2 linked regions of the Homo sapiens genome follow. The gene in region 1 interacts genetically with each later gene. Each region holds a gene or a part of one and is shown in the gene's direction. Other genes may lie near its edges.

Region 1 (7,901 bases):
TTACTAAGATGGGGCTGAGGGGGTAATGGACCTTCTTGAACTGACACTATGAAGATAAATAAAATCTCATCCATGACCTCTAAGGAACCTCTAAGTGACTTTTAAAATTCAAAATTTTAAGGTATACACAATTAAAGAAATTTGGCCTCAATGTTACATACCACTTACTGTAATATTTGTTTATTCAATAGTTATGTTAATTTGGAAGTATCACCGAACTCTTCGATCAAGATAAATAATGATTTTCCAAATAGATTTTGGACTCTAAAGGAAGAAAGATTTTCTTTCTTGAAAATACGTGATTTTATTCTGCAGAGAAAACTCTTTTAAATGAACTATTACTATATTTTAGTCAACTTAAATTCAGATTTATAACTTCATGTAATATACCAAAAATGCTATTCATAAATAGCTACACAGACAGACTTATATAGAGACAAGTATTGGTGACCACTTCAAAATGAATCGAATCAAATCAGATACTTAGAACATATTTCAGAAGAACAATATTCATTTTATCTTGGCTCCCTCAGATCCTTTCTGGAACAAAGTCAAGTGTAATAAAGAAAAAATCATGTAGGGGCAAATGAGCCGTCTCTCTGTGATCAGGATTTTTAATGCTTCACTTACTTTAGTTGTCCTGTGTCCTTTTGTAGATAATAACACATACGTGTCATTTAATGTGATGTTTCTGTATAGTATAATAAGACAATCTTATATAGAAAAATTCGAGCTGAGCAATGGCTTTAAAGAGGTTCTTAAATTTTGAAGAAAAATTGATTACATATTTCTGTATATTTTGGTACACTGCGGTTTTCTTAAATTGATCAGAGTAATATATTATACTCTTATACTATTTCTGCAATGTGGTAGATGTCTTAAATCAATCTCAAGTTCTTGATAACATAGACTTTGTATTCAGGTCTGGATTTAAAGCAAGATTGTGCCTTTCATTAACTTGGGTTGATTATCTAATCTTCATTTTTCTCATCTGTACAATGGGAATAGTATCAACCACATAAGCCTCTTATAGGAATTTAACAATATGATGAATTTTTAAAAACTAGAAGAATTCCCTGACACGTGGTTAGTGCTCACTACATGGCAGTATATGTTAAAATTACTATCATGGATCAAACCTTTGATTTTTATATATATGCTGCCTTACAATTATAACAAGAGCACGTTGAAAAGAGTAAAAAAGTGGATTAGGGTTTTGCAGTTTTTACCACATCCTTGGGGAATCTGGTATGAAAAAAGAAATATTTAATATGTTACACTCTGCAGATTTCCTTCATATGGTTATTTTATACTTCTGCTGGAATACCAACTCAGAAATTCAATCACAAAGAAGGCCATTGGATAACCTTACCCAAATTAGGGATAATGACAGTTTCTTACAATCTTTAGATGTATTAAAATATATAGGCACATTTTGAATATATAATACCTTTCCAGGTTTTACATAAAAGAAGCCTAGATTTCCATCTACATTTATCTATTCAGCTGCTTGTTTGGAAAAGAAAAAAACAATTTATATTTAGAAAGACATTGAAGCCAGATCCCCATTTGATTTTTCTGTATCTTAAGCTCTCTGATGTGGTGGTCATGGGGCTTCATTGTTCTAAGCCATTGCTGTTTCTTTTTGGCTTAAGGAAAACCTTAATTTTTTTTTTTTTTTGCTAAAGCACTGCTAAAATTTAATTTCCAACTTCTACTAGAAGCTTCAGATTTTAAAGACTTTCCTTTAATTAAACATTTGGAGTGAGAAATCCATTTTTTATATAGGCAGTGCTCACTAAAACTGTCTTAAGTGTAATTGAAATATGCACATTTTTCTAGTATAGATCTTATCATATATCTCAGAAGGTAATGTCTTTGTTCTTTTGGAATTAATGTTGTCCATAACAAATTTCTGTCTGGCGACTCGTTACTGTTGCTAATTTAGTGTGAGATGTTTGGTCATAATCCTAAACTATCATTTGGGATGAGATTGTTATAAAATAATGGTTTTTTAGTCACATTTCATATCAAATGAGACACTGACAGAGCATTCTTTTAAAAAACCAGTTATGAACTTGACTACAAGAAAAGCAGAAAACATGGATTCCAAAATGTTTTGGTGAAGACATTATTCCATAAGGTAGCTAGTGTATGGCAAACAACAACAACCACAACAACAAAAGCCATTTAAAAAATGGCACCAGTCTAAAATCACTGGCTTGCTTTGTCACTTTTAATAGGTAAAGTAGTTAAGAATGCAAAATGTTGATGCTTGGTAAAAAAAATGCCAATATAACCAAAGCGATTTCCCTTATACAAAGCTCTTCTCTGTATGATGTAATTTGTCATACCCTACACAAGGATAACTTTCTATGAATAGGGCAACATTTTCTGCCCTAAAGGACCATGGCAATTGGTGGTAGGCTGATCTCGCCCAATCTATCCCTTCTGTTTCCCACACACACTCTTTCTGCCTCTGAGTGATTTTATAGTTTACTTAAGGAAAGGCATTTACAGATGGTGAGTCTATCAAGTATAAAATAGAATCTATATTTTGCCTGATAAATAAATAGTCATGAGAAAACACTTCTAGTTGAAATCCTCCAATGTCTTCCTTTCTGTGAACCATCTTAAAATTAAGGGTCTTATAAGTCTATATGATGTGTTAATTCCTGCATTATTGTATTAGGAAGACTATTTTCCGAATATCTTAAAAATTTCACCCGCGTAAGGAAATTTGCCCGAGATAAGCTGGTGGTGTGTATTATTTGGAGACATGAGCTAGACATTGTAATCCTGAACTGGGTAAACCAAGCCCAAGTGTTTAAAATGAAAGTTTTCAAGAATTTTAATTACTTTCCTTTTCCAGAGATAAAAGAGATGTTAATAGCGCACTTTTGGATGTTTCTAAACCACAGTGTTATCCAATTTAGACGTATTGGACCTTTGGGGTGGGTTTCTCCTTAACGGTTAAGCCTTTTTTCACGGGGTGCTAAAACAATAGCACATTCAGAATTATTATAGTGAGAATTCAAGTGATTCAACTTTAACAACCGAATGCACTTTTTTCTTCACAAGTAAATACTGTAGATTAAAAGTGTGCAGAAATTACTCTTAATGCTTTACAAGAAGAGTGGTTGTTTTATTCTTTCGCAAGACTATTTCATTACCGTAATTTTCAAGCATGCCGAGGTGTCCTAATGTCTCTTCTAATTGCTTGAATGTCGCTGACCTTTTTTTAAAAGAACACACAGCGCCCATAATATGCAAGGGAGACCTAAGTTAAGTAGCAGCACCAAAACGTATCCACCAAACAAAGGCTCTTCCTCAGACGGCCCCTTCTGGAGAGAACCTTTCCTAATATTTTCCAGTAGGGGGAACTAAAGACTCACCATCCAGCATTTAGCTCGGCTCGGGGACCTGCGTGAGTTCCTATAAGCCGCCTTCTCATCATCTGAACAAGCATCAAACGGCTACCAGCGAGCCTGTGATCACACGTGGGCCCGGCCGCACCGGGGCACCGCCGACACCGGCACCCCTTTGATCTAACGTGACCTTCCTTCATCATCCCCGGTCCTGAATGGCATCCTTTGGTAGTCTTGGTCTTAATTTTCAGAGTTTTGTCGTCTTTGGGCTGAAATTCGGCTTCTTTTTGAGCTTCCATGAGCTCAGCTGGGCTTTCGGCTTTCCACACCCAGAGCCTATGTTTACCGAATTTCCTTCTGGAGGTGCTGGTCCCTGGAGGGTAAAGACTTCGGGGATCCCCCTCCCCCAAGCTCTGTGATCCCCGCTTCCCCGTCCTTAGCATCTTCTGTGGAACTCCCTCGCCCTGCGCGATCGCGCATCAAACTCATCGTGGAGGGGTCAAAAGGCAACTGAGTAACATAAGAGGGGCTGCCTCCCCTTCCTCCTTCCCTTGGGGATGCCGCAGGGGGCCATAGATCTTGGCTAAAATGAGCCGCTGGAGGTTAGAGAATTCTGCCCCCTCCTTTTTCTCCCCCTTGTGCTTTTGAATCATATAGGAAGCATCTACACACAACCTTTCCAGTCCAAAAGGTGCTTCTATTTCCTTTCCTTTCCTTTCCTTCCTCCTACTCGGCTTCTCATCTGGCTAAAAGGTGAAGAGTGAGTGAGTGTGTGATTTTAACGCGTAATGAGGCTGCGCCCTGGGTCCTGGAGGCTGATCTTTTTCAAGAAAGCGCGTGCAGCTCCGGCAGACGGAGGGATGAATAATTAGGAAGGGCTTCCATGAAATCACTCACGGAGAAAATTACCTGCCCATTAAACGGGACGCGGCGAGGAGCAGGAGCCTGGAGCCCACCTATCCCCTCCCGAGGCGGGAAGGAGTGGGCACCCGGGGGCGCGGAGAAGGGGAAGGAGTCGCCCGGTGGCCTCGGCCCTCGGCAGCCGGCGGGGCTCTCCGAATTTGTTCATCTCCGTCCCCCCGGGGACTCTCGGCTCTCCAGGACCCCTCCCCACTCCCCAGCGGGCGGGTGGCCGAGTCCGGAGGTTCAGGGCTCCGCGCGCCCCTCCTCGCCCCCGCCCCTCCCCGGGCCGACTCCAGGCAGCTCTCATTCCTCCCCTCCCCTCCCGCCTCCTCGCCTTCCCTCCTAGAAGTCCTTCCACCCGCGGCAGCTGCCGGAGGAAGCGGACGCTCTGCTGCGAGGCTGCGGGGGCTGGACCCGGGCGAGGGGCCTCAGCGCGCCTGGCGCTGGACTGAGCGCTCCCTTTCTCCGCCGCGCCCGGGCTGGGCTCTCACGCCCGTCTCTGCTCGCGCCCGCAGCCGCCTGGTGCACTATCCTCAGAGGCGGCACCGCGGGGGTGTCTGCAGCCTCGGCCTCCGCCCGGCCCCTCCCTCCCTCCCTCCCTCCCTCGCTCCTTCCCTGCCTCCCTCACCACGTAGGAGTTCGGATTCTCCACCCGAATCGTCCTGATTTCCCTTCTCCTCTCTTTTGGAAACCGGAGAGGTGGAGGGAGGGCAACACCGCTGCAAAGGAGAGGCCCGCCAAGTCTGCCCGCCTGCAAAGTGTTGCTTTGACACATTCTTATTATGGAAGTTAAGTAAAAATATAGACATATTAAAAAATAACTCCGGACGTGGAGCTGCTACGGAGAAGGAAACCGGGGGAAAGAAAACCAGTAGGCAGGCCAATGGTTTTTCGGCAGCGCGCTGGCAAGTTTGTGGAACACTTTCTAGGAATTAGGTCTTTTCCTCCCCCTTCATCATCTTGACTTCTGAAGGAAGAACTTGGCTTTGGATTGCAGTGGAGCCTAAGGAGAGAGGGTTAGACACACTCGAATAATCCCTCTGGCTGGGCTGAATTTGTGGGAATTTAGGAAGCCAGAGTGCTGGAAATACAGCAGCCTTTGAAGTACCCTCTGTTAATTTGGATGGATCTCAGTGTGCCCCGTTCGAGACCTCTCCACCAACCCCTTCTGATCTTGCGATTTGCTCTTCTTGACTTTAATTAGTATCTAGGAAAGTCTAAACTTTGGACCTACCTCTTTTTTTGATACTCATTTTTGTACTTTTGCTCTCTGGGATTGGTTTCTTAAAGAATCTGGATCCTTTTTAATATGTCAAAATGAGTCTGCTGATGTTTACACAACTACTGCTCTGTGGATTTTTATATGTTCGGGTTGATGGTAAGTTAAAAATGCTTTCATCTTTTTTTGCGCCCCCCACCCCCCAATCCCCCAAAACCATTTCTTTTTGAATTTGATGTGGGTTATAAATGAAATGACATTATGTCTGTTAGTCCGTTTTGGCCCGGCACGGGCTCCTTGGGGGCAGAGGTTTTATTTAAGTCTTTTGTTTCTAAACTGCTGTAAGTGGAATGTGTTGGTAGTCACCTATTGTTGTTATTGTTGTAATTTACTTCACTAATTAAGGAGTTGGATAATAAATGATTGGGCTCCCAGTTTTGTTAGAAAAAGAAATATTACAGTCAATCTCCTGCAAGAGCCTAATACTATTGTGCCTGCTCTCTATTTGATGTTTGCTCTTGTGTCTGAACTTTGGCTGAGACATTCAAGTGAAGAAATACAGTAATAGACACTCTAAGGAAGGTTCAGTGGGTTAGGAATTTGAGACTGAGATCAATGTGTATCACCTGTGTGCCAGTGAATGCTCTCCTAGCGTTAAATCGAATGAAGAATTTAGATCCTAGGGAGAAAACTGTCAAAAGTGAGACTGGGCGAGGCTCCACGAAGGGGGAAGCATCAGCTATGGGCTGGCCACAGGAGTAGAACACTTAGCTCAGTCCCCAGTGGGCAAACACAATGGGGACCTTAAACAGGTGCTGGAGGTGTCTCCCTCTAGGTTGAGTCAGTCTGTCAAGCCCACAGCATTCTGCCTCTGATTCTCTTGTCTTTTGTTCCGATTTGGTTTACTGGGATATTTTCACAGGATGTCAATTTCTTGTGCGACTATTGCAAAATCCTTTTTTGTGGTTCTTTTGAATGAAGAGTGGAAATAATCATTAACATGCTTTTTGGTTTGTATTCAAAAGAAAAAAGTTAAAAGAATATTTGCTGTTAACCTTCTAGAGGCTTTAATTTTTATATCGATGGAAACAACTGGTATAAGGGAGTACTAGATATTTTTTTTTTCTAACTGGATTGCAGTACTTTAGGTTTTTAGTTACTTTCTGTACTTGTAAAGAACCTAAAGGGTATTAGTCTAACTGTTTGAGCCATCACAATAGCTTGTTGCCACATAAACTTTCCTCCAGCATTTGCATTGTGGATGAATTCATTATTTGGGACACTGCCTATTTTGGCCCATCTGAGTAGCTAACTTTGTTCCTGGCAGCTACTGCTGCATAGAGCCCAATGTATTGGACTCAAAAAGGAAGGCTTTCTATAAACATGAGGCAATACAGAGGAGTTTACCTACTGTCAAGTGGCTGTTTTCAATCATGGACTACATGAGTACCTTTGCCCCCCAGCGATAGTGAGGGAGGGATGCGTGTGTGTGCACTGCTTCTCTCTTTTACCAGTCTAAGCAGTAGATGTTTAAGATTTAATTATTGTGAATTATACTATGGCAACATCTCTAATTATTTTTCATGCATTTATTTTTCAGTACATTAAAATACGTGTACATTACCGTAACAAAATAGGTTTACCTATTTGTCCCAGGTGTGTTTGATTTTCATGATAAGAAGAATTTGGTATAACTTTTAAAAGAATATGTCCTCATAAATCATGAATTTACATATCTCAACAGAAATGCATGTGTAAACTATACATTAGACTACAAAATTATCACCAAGGGTTTTTTTATATAAGCGTTTTTAAATCAGTGTGTTGCTAGGAGGAATACAATTAAATTGCTCAGTGGAAGTGACAGGAAATCAGAAGAGCTTGGTGTTACAGAATGTAATTAATATACCAGGGTGTTTGGAGATATATGAAACAAATGCAATTAACCAGCTTGCTGGAGCAGCAGTAGTAAGACACCATTTCTGTCTGCCTTCCCTCCCTCCCTCCTTTCATTCCTCCCTCCCTTCTTTCTCTCCGTTTTATTCCTCTCTCCCTTCTTTCCTTCCTTCTCTCCCACACCACCCTTCTCCTGCCCCCAAAGACAACCTAGAACCTTTGTTCTGATTTAACATTGTAGGATAAGGGGGCAGTTTGTGTCTGGGCCACAATTATGCAGCAGAACTCATAGTAATGTAGTGAAAAATGCCAAAATTGAGGAGTTGACACTGAAAAGGCAATATTAAATTTTTGTGTGTGTGAAACTAGTTTTGTATTTAGCATCTGCTGTGTCAAAAGCAAAGGAAACCCTGGACACTCTTACTAAATTAATATGTAAATCATACGTTTGACATTGGATTGCCTTTGGATACTTCAGAATGACAGTTTCTCCACGGGGATGGTTGAAAATTTGG
Region 2 (7,039 bases), on another chromosome or scaffold:
TTTTGGTAACTCAAGGGGATTTCAAAGTTGAGGGAAGGATATTCAAGTATAGGAGGTTGGGTGGGATATGCAAATATGGGAGGCTAAATGGAGAGACAGAGTGAAGAAGTGAGAGAGGGGATAATTGATAGGAAAAGGTCAAAGGGATCTCAGGGACAGGAAGAGGTCAAAGGGATCTCAGGGATAGAGTTAAGGTGACAGGTGGAGAGGTTAGCCATTGAAAAAAGGAGCAGTTAATATAGAAGGGGTGGAGGTGAGTACTTGTAAATATAAAGACTGGGAGTTTATTGAGGATAGGCATCATATCCTATTCGTTTTGATAATCCCAATGTCTAGCACATTTTTTGGCATGAATTCTGTAAACATCAAGTGCCTGCTCTGTGCCAGGCAGTATTGCAGATGCTGAAGATGTAGCGGTGAGCAAGATAGACAAAGTCTCTGCCGTCTTGGAAAATCCACTCCAATGGGAGAAATAGACAACTCATAATTTCACTTAGTAATAAGTAACTGTGAAGGCAATAAAACCTATTTCATGTGATAGGGCAATTTGTAGTGGGGCTATTTTAGGTAACATGGTCAGGAAATGTCTCTTTGAGAGTTGGCATTTAAATTGAATTGCCATGATGAGGAGGCAGATGTAGAGGAAGAATGTTCTGGGAATTTATAAAGGCCTTGAAATGGGAACAGGCTTGTGTTCAAGAAACAAAAACATGATGAGTGAGTTATCAGTCAATGTCAAATGAATTAATTACTCTTTGCTTTAGGTGTACAGTTGAGAAGTTGAGAGTTTCAAACCTAATGGACTCAGTGACTTTGATGACAGTCTAACAAAGTGGTTAAGAGCTTGGGCACAGAAGCTAGACTGGTTTTGCATCCTGGTTTTGTCATTTGCTAGCTGTGTAACTTTGAGTATATTACATAACTTCTATGCCTCAGTTTTTTAAATATGTAGAATGGGGATCATAATACTAACATGAATTGTTTTGTAGATTAAATGAATCAATGTATGTGCTTGGCATGTTGACTGCTATGAAATATTAGTTACTGTTTTTTGTCTGTTTGTTTTTGCTGAGAATGAGGGGTGTGGGGACTTGAAGAGAAGGCAAGGATCATGTCTTACTCTTTTATTTTTGGTCTCAGTGACTGTGTAGAATGTGGGAATAACTCTTTCATTTATCCAGTGACTGAATAGATATATTTTTGGATGAATGAGGCCAATCAAAATCGGAACATTCTGTTGGGGAAAGGGGTTGGACAGGAAATGTATGAAGGAATGTATGATCTGTTCTGAATGTGAATGGTGGTATAACCATGCACTTGGGAGGCACCATAGCACAGTGGCTAAATGTTAGAGCACTGGAGGTAGACTCCCTTAGTTCACGTCTACCTTTTTCTACTTGTGTTAAATTGGGCAAGTTAATTAGACTTTGTCTGTTTCTTTACTTGTAACTTTGTAGTGTTATCAAAAGGACATTATGTCCGCACCTGGTAAGTGCCCATGAAATGTTACCTGTTGTTATTATTAAAATCACATTTAAAATTCCAACCAGCATGGCACTGTATGTTTTTCCACACAAAATAGAAATGGAGAAAACCTAGTTGAGTTGATTTAGGGTTAAAGAAAAAAGAAATGGAAGGTTTTGGGGACAGTGTTTGACTATATGGTAAAAAGGAAAGTGATGCCAAGAGGGAACTGATAGACTGGAAGATAAAGAGGAGTCAGAGTATCTGGGTCCTGAAGTCCTAGAAGAACAATGTTAGTGAAAACAATAGAGGGGATTGTGACCAAAATGGGGAATCTAAACTTAACCCCCTTAGTTTTTTCAGCTGCTTTATCTCTTTCTTGTTAGAAATGGTATTTGAGTCCATCCTTCAGATGCATGGGATTTTGGTTGTAAGAGGTTAAGTAGTCATTTTAGCAAAAGTTCAGGGATTATTTTATTTTACTTATTTTGAGGCAGGCTGGAGTGCAATGGTGTGAACATAGCTCACTGCAGCCTCAACCTCTTGGGCTCAAGTGATCTTCCTGCCTCAGTCTCCTCCAGTAGCTGGGACTACAGGCATGCACCACCATGCCTGGCTTGTTTTTTATTTTTTGTAGACACAGGGTCTCACCATGTTGTCCAGGCTGGTCTTGAACTCCTGAGCTTAAGTGATCCTCCCACCTCCACCTCCCAAAGTGCTGGGATTATGGGTGTGAGCCACCATGCTCAGCTTGCTCAGGGATTATTACTTGGCACTAACCATTGGCCCTATAAAAATTTATAAGACACAAATTCTAGACTTGAGTTTACTGTCTATCTGGAAGTGCAAGATACAAAGGCAGATACTTATAGAAGTGTTAAATGAAATGACCAAGAAAGTATAACCTACTATGACAAAGGCATGGCATTCTAGGCTGGCTTAAAAGCATCAGCAGAGACAGGAAAGCACAGTTTGTATGTAGGTAACAGTAGGAATTCTGTTAGAGCTAGAATGCAGGTGTCATGAAGGACAGTAGTGGAATTCATTCTGGAAATGGAGGCTTTGGCTAGGATGGGGCATCTTGAAGACCAAGGTAAGAATTAGATTTTATTCAGTAGACACTGATCACCCTTGATGGTTTTAAGCTATGAAGAGACGTTATTTATTGTAGGAATATGTCAGGAAGTAATGCGGGATTGAATCTGTATGTGTACATCTGTATTTGTGCATAGGTAGTAATTTTCTTCATGTAGCTGTTATATCAGTGGAATCCTGTATAGTGTATAAACACAAGTTAAGGCAAAAACTGCTCTATTGGTATACTGGTAGGTAGAAATGTGAAATGAATTAGTTTCCTAACTCAAGAGAAGAAAAAAATCTTGCCTCTGGGCTTAAAAGGAAAATAAAAATGTCAATCTAAAAATACTTTTGTCCTTTAATATATTTGTTTAAAAAATCAACAGAATAGTCTCACTTTTTTCTCAAAAACCAGATTAAACATTTAGGTTTTCTGAGGAGGGGTTAGGTTAATTGAGGTTTAATTTATATACAATAAAATTCATCCTCTTTAAATGTTCATTTGAAGAGTCCTGAAACTATCACCACAGTCAAGTATAGACTGTTTCCATCACTTCATATAAAAAGTTCTGTCAGGCCCTCCTACCCCTGGTTACTGACCGCTGCAAATCAGTTTTCTGTCACTAATATTTTACCTTTTCTAGAATGTCATATAAATCTAGCTCCTTAAGGGCAGGGCCCCCAGGTATTGTTCATCTTTCTGTCTTGTATCTGTATTTCCTGTAAGTGGAAGCTAGACCTTAAGGGTTTATTAGGTGTTCATTAGAAAATTTTTTAGCAAGAATATTGTATATGGCGCTGGGTACTGCATGTTGCATCCCATCCAGAGGTTGTGAGGTTGTCTCACTATTTAATATGTTAAATCTGATTACTTGGGTAAGACGGTACCTACTAGATTTCATCTCTGTAAATGTATGCTTTTTCCATTTGTAAAGAACAAGTAATCACAGGGTAAAAATTTGAGCACATTGTGAATGCCTTTTACCTAATGCTTTTAGCATTCTTTGATAATCCTTGTCTGAGTCAATAATTTCATTAGGGGTTGCAAAATGATGAATTAAAAAATAATTCTGTTATTTCTTCTATGTTTATTAGCTGGTACTCTTCTGCAAAGAAGAGTTGGCCTTCACTGACTGTCAGTGAAATGTAGTTTCTCCTAATCCAGCAGCATAAATGCTTAATTCTCTTCCCTCATTAGCCAAATTGGTGTAATAGTCCAGTGGTGGTGTGGCAGGTGCTGTGGTTAGGCTTTCAGATCCCGCTTTCAGGCACATGTTCCCCTAGCTCTTGGCAATATTGGCAGCTAAAACTGATTGCAGCTGAGTCCCACTCCACGCATTGCCCTGAGCCAAGAGTTGCCTCCCCCAGAGTCATGCCTCCTCTTCAGGGGCAGTTTACATCTAATATCTATACAGTGTAGGGATATAAATGCCTAGCGCTTTTGCTATAAGACAAGCCAACCTTGAAGTCTATCCCAACACCAGAGAGCTCTCCCATGGGTCTGGCTGAGGGCTTCCTGGGACTGCATTGCAGATCAACTCCTTCCTCTGTTCAGTCTTACGTCTTTCACTGCCCCACAGTTGTTGGTTCGGAGGGCACTCCGCAATAAACTTCCGGTGTGCACATCTGCATTTGAGAGTCTGTTTCCTGGGAACCCTCCTACCCAAAGCAGTTGGTGCCAGGAGTGGTCTCAGAAAGTAGACTTTACAGTGAGGTTTTGAAGCTGGATTATTGGCTGGCTGGCTGGCAATGAGAATCGATTCTGGTGCTAGATGGAGCACTAATACTGATAACGCTTGGCATGCACTGTAGCTATGCAACTTAAAACTTTCACTGGTGGTGAGTTGGAATGCTATTCCTGTTGAAGGGAATGCACTGGTGAGTGCACTAGGCTTTTGAGAAGTTCAGAGAAATTAATTATGAGGACAATCATCAGATGGCTTTTGGTAAATAACATTGATAGATTGGAGAAAGATGATGCAAGGTGGAAGATAATTGGGGGCAAAATGTAAAAGGAAATTTATTTAGCATCATGTAAAGAAACACATATACAGTAAGAGGAAAAATCTAAGGCTTCAACCCAAAACTTAATTTTAAGGGTAGCAGAGCACCAAGGTAGGTAGAATTCTCTCTCAGCTATGCTAAGGTCAGTGTTCTGGTTGGGCAGGAATCCTGACCCTTAGGATGGGGCATCTGAGTGCACTTGAAAACCCTGAAACCCCAAATTCCTCTTAACCCTCTGGGCCTGCAGAAGTGGCCTTCTTCTACTAGCTAGAGGGGTTGCTTGCAGACTGTGCTGTCCCTCTTACCCCCAGCTCCTCCTCTCTCGCCTACTGACTATCACCAAACCAACAACTAGGGTTAAGTCACAAGAACACCTAGTTCGGGGTGCTGGATCTGCGAAGGGAGGAAGGGACTGTACACACAAACACACACACACACACGTTCCCAAACTGCACCAAGGCACCCCAAAGCACCACCACAGACACAAAAGAATACCATGGGATATTTCAGAATTTTAAAGGAAACACAGCAATATCTGTCACAAATTACTAGCTTGAGGTAGTTCACGGTTTTGACATTAGCTCATGCCACATTTCTTTTGATGATGTCATATTTTTGCAGGGTTGGATTTTTACTAGTTGTGATACAGATCAAGCACTGTGCAAAAATCAGTGTGGAACAGGAAAGGAGGGTGGCATGTTCAGTCTGATTCCAAGTTTGAGAAGTTGTTCTGTGTCTAACAGGCACACATGTCATATTATCAAGTAATTGAAGTTTTTGTTTGTTTGTTTGTTTTGAGGCAGAGTCTCGCTCTGTCACCCAGGCCAGAGTGCAGTGGTGCGATCTCGGCTCACTGCAACCTCCGCCTGCCAGGTTCAAGTGATTCTTCTGCCTCAGCCTCCTGAGTAGTTGGGATTACAGGCGTGTCCCACCACACTCGGCTGATTTTTGTATTTTTACTAGAGGTGGGGTTTCACCATATTGGTCAGGCTGGTCTCGAACTCCTCACCTCGTGATCCGCCTGCCTCGTTCTCCCAAAGTGCTGGGATTACAGGCGTGAGCCACTGCGCCTGGCCCAGTATTTGTAGTTTTTAAGAAGGAAATAAAAATATTTTTCTTCCAATTTATGTGTTATTTTTTCAAATGTCTACTCATTTGTTAGGACATGAATTCTTGTTATTTGGATCTAACTACTTAATAAACACTACTGTTTGGTATTTCTTTTGGCCTATGAGTGCATGGAAAAATTACCGATGATGGCTGTGCATGGGCCCAATAAAAGGGTTTTCATTCACCAGTGCTGATCTAGCAACTGCTGCTGCTGAATATCCAGCCTGACAGCAGCAGAGATCAATCATCCTTCAAGCAGGCCAACCAGTCCTTATACAGTGGAAAGGACCATGATTCATTTTGATTGGATTTGAGACATATTCTGGGTCTGAATTTGTCTTTCCAGCAGGGTCTCACCCAGGACTACTGTTTGAGGGCTTGCAGGATGTTTGATCCTCTACTACAGGGATCATTTCAGAATAAGGGACCCACTGTTATGTTATGTTATGTTATGTTATGTTATGTTATGTTATGTTATGTTATGTTATGTTATGTTATGTTTTGAGACGGAGTCTTGCTCTGTTGCCCAAGCTGGAGTGCAATGGCGTGATCTCAGCTGACTGCAACCTCCGCCTCCCGGGTTCAAGCAGTTCTCCTACCTCAGCCTCCTGAGTTGCTGGGACTACAGGTGCACATCACCACGCCCAGCTAATTTTTGTGTTTTTAGTAGAGACGGGGTTTCACCATGTGGACCAGGATGGTCTCGAACTCCTGACCTCGTGATCCGGCCACGTCAGCCTCCCAAAGTGCTGGGATTACAGGCGTGAGCCACCGCGCCCGGCCGGGACCCACTTTTATAGAATAGGAGAATCATTTGTCCCATCTTGCACCACACCGTCCAGAAGCTGATGACTTGATAGAGCAGTAAAACAGTCCTTTGATGGCACAGCTGATGATGAGATCCTGCAGCTTGGGCATGATGCCCTGCAAGGGTGAGGCGCCCATTCTCCAGTGTTCCCAGTAGGAAGATCACATGAAATTAGGAGTGGCTCCGCATAGCATCACTCTGTGAATCACCTGGGCAGTTTCTGCTTCCCATCTCCATAGCTCTGATGGCAAGGGGTTAAAAGATCCTGGTTCTCAGAAGAGAAACATTTCCAACAGAGGGCGCTATGAGAATCCTGTTATACTTTAAAGTACAGCTGCCACTAGGATTTGGGGCTCCTTTTCTAAATAAAGAAGTCACCAGGCTGGGCACGATGGCTCACGCCTGTAATCCCAGCACTTTGGGAGGCCGAGATGAGTGGATCACGTGAAGTCAGGAGTTCGAAACCAGCTCAGCCAACATGGTGAGACCCTGTTTGTACTACAAATACAAAACAATTAGCCGGGCATGTTGGCGCGTGCTTGTAATCCCAGCTAATTGGGAGGCTGAGTCAGGAGA

Evidence for each region.
Region 2: of ROBO2 (region 1) and MYCBP2, changing one suppresses a phenotype caused by changing the other (phenotypic suppression), as found in Homo sapiens cells (one study listed by BioGRID).

What each region holds. Positions count from the first base shown.
Region 1 is NC_000003.12:77,035,198-77,043,098, forward strand, and holds the start of ROBO2 (roundabout homolog 2 isoform 23 precursor), read left to right. Parts: upstream 1-4,901; 5' UTR 4,902-5,588; coding exon 5,589-5,649; intron 5,650-7,901. UniProt on the Homo sapiens protein: Receptor for SLIT2, and probably SLIT1, which are thought to act as molecular guidance cue in cellular migration, including axonal navigation at the ventral midline of the neural tube and projection of axons to different regions during neuronal development.
Region 2 is NC_000013.11:77,317,056-77,324,094, reverse strand, and holds part of MYCBP2 (E3 ubiquitin-protein ligase MYCBP2), read left to right. Parts: intron 1-7,039. UniProt on the Homo sapiens protein: Atypical E3 ubiquitin-protein ligase which specifically mediates ubiquitination of threonine and serine residues on target proteins, instead of ubiquitinating lysine residues.